Linked DNA regions of Homo sapiens. The protein of the gene in region 1 purifies or fractionates together with the protein of each later gene. This does not show direct contact. Each region holds a gene or a part of one and is shown in the gene's direction. Other genes may lie near its edges.

Evidence for each region.
Region 2: the proteins of B3GALT2 (region 1) and HMGN5 purify together in Homo sapiens (co-immunoprecipitation; one large-scale study listed by IntAct). This does not show direct contact.
Region 3: the proteins of B3GALT2 (region 1) and CLN3 purify together in Homo sapiens (affinity purification with mass spectrometry, with the first as the bait; one large-scale study listed by BioGRID). This does not show direct contact.

What each region holds. Positions count from the first base shown.
Region 1 is NC_000001.11:193,180,917-193,183,671, reverse strand, and holds part of B3GALT2 (beta-1,3-galactosyltransferase 2), read left to right. Parts: intron 1-1,989; 5' UTR 1,990-2,109; coding exon 2,110-2,755. UniProt on the Homo sapiens protein: Beta-1,3-galactosyltransferase that transfers galactose from UDP-galactose to substrates with a terminal beta-N-acetylglucosamine (beta-GlcNAc) residue. Can also utilize substrates with a terminal galactose residue, albeit with lower efficiency.
Region 2 is NC_000023.11:81,191,851-81,195,413, reverse strand, and holds part of HMGN5 (high mobility group nucleosome-binding domain-containing protein 5), read left to right. Parts: intron 1-3,563. UniProt on the Homo sapiens protein: Preferentially binds to euchromatin and modulates cellular transcription by counteracting linker histone-mediated chromatin compaction.
Region 3 is NC_000016.10:28,479,364-28,482,074, reverse strand, and holds part of CLN3 (battenin), read left to right. Parts: intron 1-2,711.

The sequences.
Region 1 (2,755 bases):
ATTATTATTTACCAAATATGTCATTTGGAAATAAAAGCTTAAAAATAGTTCCCTGGTCTAAAAAGAATGGCCAGCTATTTAAAAGTACAAGAAGGAAAACACTGAGTTTCTAAATCAGAATGCTCAGCTCTATTATTTTCAGCTTAGCTTACAGCAGAACTATGTTTTGTTGGTACAGTGAATAGCCTTGGTTTTCATTACACTAATGCTGAGTTTAAATTCATATAAACAAATTCTAACAAATAGCATACTAGATGATTTGCTTTTAAAATTCCAAACTTAAAAAAATTGTTCACATCTTTCAAAATGCTTAATTTTTTTACATTTTAGAAATATTATAACTTCTAAAAGTACTCTGTAATCTCAGAAACTAGAAATTTCAAACGCTGGTGCCTATATGGTTGGACCTTAGATATTTGTTCAAATTCCCACCTACTTGCTCCTCCTAGTGGCTGCTACTATAATAGCACTTTCATTCATTTACATCTAACACTTTCAATCAATATTTTCAAAGTACTTAACGTTATGTATGTGAATTTTACTTTATAACTATTCAATTACATGAGGATTTCCATGTAAATTCTATTTCCTAGAAGTAATTAAATTTATGCCAAGGTTAAACAAATTTAATATTAACCATGACTCTCTCATTATCACAGGCTAAATACATACATGTATTTATGCATACACTGTAATTTCAAATAAATGCTCCTGTATTAAAACTTTTTAATTGATTTCTTTTGCTTAAAGAAGTAATTTTCATAATAAAAAGTTGGAAAAATTAAAATTACATATTCATCACTCCTTGTCAAAAAGTTTTCTCCTGTTTTAATGGAATTCAAACTATACCTCTTTGCCCACCTCTACTCCCTCGACATATTGGTCCCCAAAAACTAAAAACAACAACAAAAACACTAAGAACAAATGTGAACAAATCTGTGCTATGCACTGAAAACCTTGTTGCAAGATAACATAACCAGTTCTTAATATATGCCATCATGAACCTCACATATTGCCATCTCATAACCTTTTTAAAATATAGGGCTCTAACTGTGCTAATGACAAGTTCTAAAAGTTTAACAAATTATCTGCATGTAAATTTAGAATAAAGCACAACTCAAGGATATTTAAAAATATATTGTGTGAAATTCAGAATTTTAAACAGTTGGTTTCAAAGTAGCTCTTTTAATTCTAACATGGAGACTCAACCAAGATATGTAACAGTGTTCTGCCAAAGCCATAGATAATCAAAGACACTTACATGCTGTATTTTAAAATTAATCTTAAGTCTAAGAACAATTATATCATGAATACTTCATATTTACAAAGAAAAGTTAAAATTTTTGAAAGTGTTAATCATTTATTACTGTCTAAAAATCCTACACTGAAGTTACTAGACCCTGAAAATTAATTTTGACAGGTGCATCTTCTCATTGACTTTCTCAACACAGTAGGGGCCAATGGAAACATGCCAAGCAGTGTACTGTGACTAACAGAACTCTGCCATAATCAACCTTGCACCGTCTGTCCCACAACTGATACATGACCATTTTACAAAAAAGGCCTCTGACTGTGCACCATACCACCAATAGTATGTCAAATCAATTTTAATTAATGCCAATAAATTTTCCATCTGCTCTTAAGGCGTTTTTACACAACCCTTCTCAGAAATCTAGTAACATTTTTCTCGAATACATTCAACTTTTAAATCTTTAACTTGGGTCAAAAGTACAAATGACCAGTGTAACAAGACAATGAAATGAATCCATCACCTCATCTCTTTAAAATGCTCACTGTGCTACAAAGGTATATTTTTAAATAAATTAATCTTGTTCTCAGTGATGTTATGTTGCCAAGGGGAAATAAATTACAAGCTTCGTTCCTGGGTTATATTTTCACAGCTTAAGACATTCCTATTTGCCCTGATCATATTAGTACCCAAAGTCCCTTTCAGGCAGTTCTGTAAACTTTTGTGCTTCATTTTTATAGAATGACTACAAGAGAGACAATGTGACTGAATTAGAAAATGATTGCCAAAGAATAGTATTAAGGAGAAGAAAACATTTTTGGTCACCAATCTCTCATATACCACTACTGGATATTTACAACATGCTTCAGTGGAGGAGAAGACACTGCTGCTTTGCAAAGATGACCTGGAATGCCAAAAGGTCTCTGTTCCGCACTCATCTTATTGGAGTACTTTCTCTAGTGTTTCTTTTTGCTATGTTTTTGTTTTTCAATCATCATGACTGGCTGCCAGGCAGAGCTGGATTCAAAGAAAACCCTGTGACATACACTTTCCGAGGATTTCGGTCAACAAAAAGTGAGACAAACCACAGCTCCCTTCGGAACATTTGGAAAGAAACAGTCCCTCAAACCCTGAGGCCTCAAACAGCAACTAACTCTAATAACACAGACCTGTCACCACAAGGAGTTACAGGCCTGGAGAATACACTTAGTGCCAATGGAAGTATTTACAATGAAAAAGGTACTGGACATCCAAATTCTTACCATTTCAAATATATTATTAATGAGCCTGAAAAATGCCAAGAGAAAAGTCCTTTTTTAATACTACTAATAGCTGCAGAGCCTGGACAAATAGAAGCTAGAAGAGCTATTCGGCAAACTTGGGGCAATGAAAGTCTAGCACCTGGTATTCAAATCACAAGAATATTTTTGTTGGGCTTAAGTATTAAGCTAAATGGCTACCTTCAACGTGCAATACTGGAAGAAAGCAGACAATATCATGATATAA
Region 2 (3,563 bases), on another chromosome or scaffold:
GTCTGGCTGGGTACCATCTAATCAGCTTCCAGCACTGCTAGCATAAAAGCAGGCAAAGGAACATGGAAGGACTAGACTGGCTTAGTCTCCCAGCCCACATCTTTCTCCCGTACTAGATGCTTCCTGCCCTTGAACATTGGAATACAAGTTCTTCAGCTTTGGGACTCTTGGACCTTCGACCACAGACTGAAGGCTGCACTGTCGGCTTCCCTATTTTTGAGGTTTTGGAACTTGGACTGGCTTTCTTGCTCCTCAGCTTGCAGACAGCCTAATGTGGGACTTCATCTTGTGATCGTGTGAGTCAATGCTTCTTAATAAATTCCCCTTTATATATACACCTATCTTATTAGTTCTGTCCCTCTAGAAAACCCTGACTAATACGCTCTCTATCTTCCCCCCACATCCTACCAGTAATAACTCCATAGAGTGGTTGTCCAGAAATTACTTATGAACACCTCCAGTTACAGTGAGCTGAAAATTCCAGAGGCATTTCCATTCTGCTTTTAGTCAGCTTAAAACATTAGAACATTATTTTCTGAGATTAAGCTGAGAACTGTTTCCTTTCATGTTTCTTTGATTCTAATAATTACCCATTATAAACTCATCTTTATCCTTGTAATATGAAGCCTTCTCTTCTCCAACTTAGTATTTCCTGTTTCTCTAGCCATTCTTCATAAGCTGTGATCTCTAGAGGTGTCACTAAATATGTTTCAGTTTGTCAGTTTCTCTCTTCTACAAAAGGTCGTCCCAGAATTGAATGTCATAATCCAAGAATGGTATGACTAGCATTGTATAAAGTAGTGTAAGGTCCTCATTCTGGACACTTTGTTTCTCTTTTAGCCCTTTTATTTTCTGAGGAATAGTATTTCACAGTGGTTTTAATTTACATTTCACTGATTACTAAGAAGTTGTGCATCTTTTCATATATTTATTGCCATTTATATATTTTCTTTTGTGGAATATCTGTTAAGAACTTTTTCTATTTTTCTATATTTTTTTGTCTCTATTCCTAATAGCAACATTTTGTCCCTATGTGTTGCAAGTAACTTTTATCCTGAGGCTAGCCTTTTTTTAAACATTTTTAATTAGTCATATATAAAATATTTTTCTTTATGGTTAATGCTTTTCTGTGAATTTTTAAAGAAATCTTTCCAGACCCTGAGAACGTGAAAATGTTATCTTACATTTATTTATAAAAGCTTTATTGTGGTGCTTTTTACATTTAGATCTACATTCCACCTGGAATTGATTTGTGTGTAAGGTTTGAGATATATGTCAAGTTTAATTTTTTTCAAATAGCTATCCAATTATTCTAGCACCAATAATTGAAACTACACCCTTTTCCCACTATTTTGCAATACCATCTTTGTCAAAAATCAAATGATTATACATGCGTGAGTCTGTTTCTGGTGTCTGTATTCTGTTTCATTTGTCTATTTGTCTACCCTTGTGCCATTACCACACTATATTACTTATTATAAATTTAAATATCTTGAAATGTAATATGGCAAATTCTCCTACTTTGGTCTTCTTCATGAAGTGTCCTGACTATTCATTGCCCTTTATATTTCCTTTTAAAAAGGTAGAATGTTTATAACCGCAATATACAAATACAATTGATTATAGTATGTTGACCTTGTATCAAGTAATTTTCTAAACTCATATGTGAATATTAATAGTTTATCTGTATATTCTTTTACATTTTCTATTTACACAATAACATCAACCATAAAAAATGGCAGCTCTATTTTTTCTTCCAATCTTATACTTTTTATTCATTTTCATTTCCTTATTTCCTTTGACACCTCCAGAACACTCATTCCTTTCACCATTGTTGTGTAACAAACAACCCTAAAGCTTAGTGGCATGAAGCAACCATTTTATTATACTCACAGATTCTGCAGGTCAAGAATTCAGCCAGGGCACAGAGGTGACTACTTGTCTCTTCTCTACTGTAATTAGGACGTCAGCTGGAAAGCCTTGAAGGCTGGGAGTCACTTGATGGCTGCAGGCTAAAACCATTTGGAGGTTTCTTTATTTGTGTTTCTGGTGCCTTTGTTGAAATGATTCAAACATTAAGCTCAGATGTAAATGTTGACTAGAGTGCCTGAATATGGCTTCACCACATGACTTTCTCATGGCATGGCAGCTTCAGAGAGTTGATCTTCTCATACTGCAGCTTACAGCCCAATGAACAAGGCAGAAACTAGATCATCTTTTATGACCTTATCTTGGAAGTCACATAGCATCATTTCTCCGAACAGCTATAATCCAGAAACAAGAAAAACAACACTTGAATGGACTCCAAAGGAACCTTTAAGGTGACTTGGATAGGCTCCAAAAGCAAAAGTTATATGTCTTTGAAAAAAGATAGCATCATCTGGAGCCTCATTGTTAGTACCACATTTTCATCTCAAAGTCTAGCACTCGATTGAAAATAATCTTACCTAAAAAAATAGATGTGACTGAAAACTAAAGACTAGAAAAGCACACAAAAATTAAAAAGAGGTATTACCATCAAAGGAGTAGCAAAAAAAAAAATTATTGCTGACTGTACATCAGAACAAATGAGAGGCAGAAGACAATGAAAACATGGCTTCAATGTTCTAAAAGAATATAACTGTCAGCATAGAATATAACTGTGCTAAAATAATAACTGTCAGCATAGAAATCTAAAGCCAACAAAAATATCCCTTACAAACTAATGTGAAATAAAGACACTTTCATATAAACAAAAGAGAATTATTCACCAAAGTTTTACACTAATTGAAATACTAAAGAATGTATTTCGGGTAAAATAAAAAAGATTATAGCTAAGAGATGCAGCAAGAAGTGAAGAACAACAGAAATGGCAAATATCTGAGTAAATCTGAATGAGCAATGTGTAAAACAATAATAACAAATGTCTTGTGAGTTTAAAATATGTACAGAACTAAAAGACATAAGAAAAATTTAAAATTGTATATATAAATAAAAACCTTCCCACAAAGTAAACTATAGGCCCAGGTTGTTTCATTGGCAAAATTTACCAAACATTTAAAGAATAAATAATGCCAATTTTACCCATATTCTTCAATATAATAGAAGAAAAAGGATATTTCTCAATCATTTCAAGGGCAGCTTAGTGTTCATTCCAAAGCTTGATGAGTACATTTCAAGAAAAGAAATACACAGGCCAATCTCATCTCTTGAAAAATAGAAGCAAAGTTACTAAACTAAGTAGTATCAAACCAAATCCAGTAGTATATAAAAAGGATAGTACTTTATGACCAAGTTGGGTTATTCTAATTGTTAAGCAGAACACTGGGCATCACTTGCTAATCCCAGGAATTGACTCTAATCACATATGCCCATTGCATCGCTTTATCAGAGTCATGAAGGAGAACATAATGCAGTCAAGCCCTGGATGAAACAACACTTTACTTATATAGAAAAAAAACAGAGCACAATCAGCTTCAATAGTGTGTGTTGGTACCCTCCATGGCTAGACGGTACCCCCTAGCAACAAACACAGAGCAACTGGATAAGCACACCCTTCTTGTGCCTTAGAAAAAGGACCCTTA
Region 3 (2,711 bases), on another chromosome or scaffold:
CACCTTGGCTCCCAGCTTGGCTCCCAGCTTCCCCAAACCCCCTGCTTCCCACTATCAGTGGGAAGTGTAAATTTTTTTTTTTTTTTTTGAGACAGAGTCTCGCTCTGTCGTCCAGGCTGGAGTGCAGTAGCGCAATCTTGGCTTACTGCAACCTCTGCCTCCCGGGTTCAAGTGACTCTCCTGCCTCAGTCTCCTGAGTAGCTGGGATTACAGGCGCCCGCCACCATACCTGGCTAATTTTTGTATTTTTAGTAGAGATGGGATTTTGCCATATTGGCTGGTCTTGAACTCTTGACCTCAGGTGATCTGCCGGCCTCAGCCTCCCAAAGTGCTGGGATTACAGGGAAGTGTAAATTGTACACTATCATTTCTTAGCACAGGGAACCAAAGTCCAGCAGAGCTCCATGTAAAATGTATAGCCTCAGGAGCCAAGCAAAACTGAGCTTCAGTACTCAGCCACTGTGTGACTTAGGGCAGGTCTCAGAACCTCTCTGAGCCTCAATTTCCTCATGTATAAATTGGGTGTGGCCAATACCTATTTTTCAGGGTAGTTGTAAGAAATAGAGATGAGAGAAAGAATCGAAGAACAAGATTTTGTAGTGTGTGTGTGTGTGTGTGTGCGTGTGTGTGTGTGTGTGTGTGTGTGTGTGTGTGTGTTTTAAGCATTGGGATTGGGCCGGGCCAGGTGGCTCATGCCTGTAATCCCAGCACTATGGGAGGCTGAGGCAGGTGGATCATTTGAGCTTGGTAGTTCAAGTCCAGCCTGGGCAACATGGCACAATCACATCTCTACAAAAATTAGCCAGGTGCAGTGGCGCACACCTGTAGTCTTAGCTACTGGGAAGCTGAGGTGGGAGGATCACTTGAACCCATGAGGTCAAGGCTGCAGTAACCAAGGTCATGCCACTGCACTCCAGCCTAGGCAATAGAGCGAGACCCTGTCTCCCAGAAAAAGAAAAAAGAAAGGAAAAGTCGGAACCTTCCTCTGTCGCCTAGGCTGGAGTACAGTGGCATGATCATAGGTCATTTACCTCAGGCAAAGAGACAGGCTTTCAAATAATGTTTCTAACTATAAGAAAATGTACAGTTCTTTTATTCTAGATAGTTAATTATAATAGAATTGGTGACTTTGAAGTCAGTGGGTTATTTATCTTGAGGGTGGTGAGCAAATTCAACTGCCCTTGGCAAACAGTAGTTTACAGCTTTAAGGGCGCAAACACCCTTCCTTACAACAGTCTAATAAAAGGAGTTTCATATAACCAGCATTCATTGTTTCAAGGTTACAAATCCACAGCCCCTGCAGGTAACTGTTACAATAAACTGTCAACTGTGACAGGAAAGTCTTCTGCCTTTGAAATTTAGGAACTTGGCCAGTCCTGGTGGCTCACACCTGTAATCCCAGCACTTTGGGAGGCCAAGGCAGGTGAATCACCTGAGGTCAGGATCAGGAGTTTGAGACCAGTCTGGCCAACACAGTGAAACCCCGTCTCTATTAAAAATGCAAAAATTAGTTGGGCGTGGTGGCACCTGCCTGTCATCTCAGCTACTCGCTAGGCTGAGGCAGGAGAATTGCTTGAACTCCGGATATGGAGGTTGCAGTGAGCCGAGATTGCAGTACTGTACTCCAGCCTGGGCCACAGAGCGAGACTCCATCTCCAAAAAAAAAGACTTAGGAACTCAATTCTGTGATAGCAAAATACAGAAATAGAGATTATACTTTAGGCTAGGTGTTGTGGCTCACACCTGTAATCCCAATGCTTTTGGAGGCTAGGGTGGGAGGATCACTCGAAGCCAGGAGCTTGAGACCAGACTGGACAACATAGTGAGACCCCCCACCTCTACAAAAAATTAAAAAAAAAAATAAGCCAGGTGGGAGAATTGCTTGAGCCCAGAAGTTTGAGAGAGCAGCCTGGGTAACATCACGAGACCTCATCTCTACAAAAAACAACAACAGGGTGTGGTGACATTCACCTGTAATCCCAGCTACTCGGGAGGCTGAGGCAGGAGGATCGCTTTAGCCCAGGAGTTCCAGGCTGCAGTGAGCCATAATCATGCCACTGTACCCCAGCCTGGGTGAGACCCTATCTCAAAAAAAAAGATTACACTTTCATATTATGGCAAAAGCATGTAAATATCCTCCAGCCTCCTTCCTTATTTATCTGAGCAGTGCTGCAAGCCCAGGGTTTGTACCCACAAAACCCCAAATTTATAACTCAGGGTGCTTGTAGATACCACTGAAACATGTAGCTTATGGTTTTAAGCTACATGTTTTTAGCTATAATGTTTTTTGTTTTGTTTTGTTTTTTGAGATGGAGTCTCGCTCTGTTGCCCAGGCTGGAATGTAGCGGTGCAATCTTGGCTCACTGCAACCCCTGCCTCCCAGATTCAAGCGATTCTCAAGCCTCAGCCTTCCGAGTAGCTGGGATTACAGGTGCGCCACCACGCCCAGCAAATTTTTTGTTTTGTTTTGTTTTGTTTTGTTTTTTAGAGACAGAGTTTTGCTCTTGTAGCTCAGGCTAGAGTACAATGGCGTGATCTTGGCTCACTGCAACCTCCGCCTCCCAGGTTCAGGCGATTCTTCTGCCTCAGCCTCCTGCGTAGCTGGGATTACAGGCACGTGCCACCACACCTGGCTAATTTTTGTATTTTTTAGTAGAGATGGGGTTTCGCCATGTTGGCCAGGCTGGTCTTGAACTCCTGACCTCAGGTGA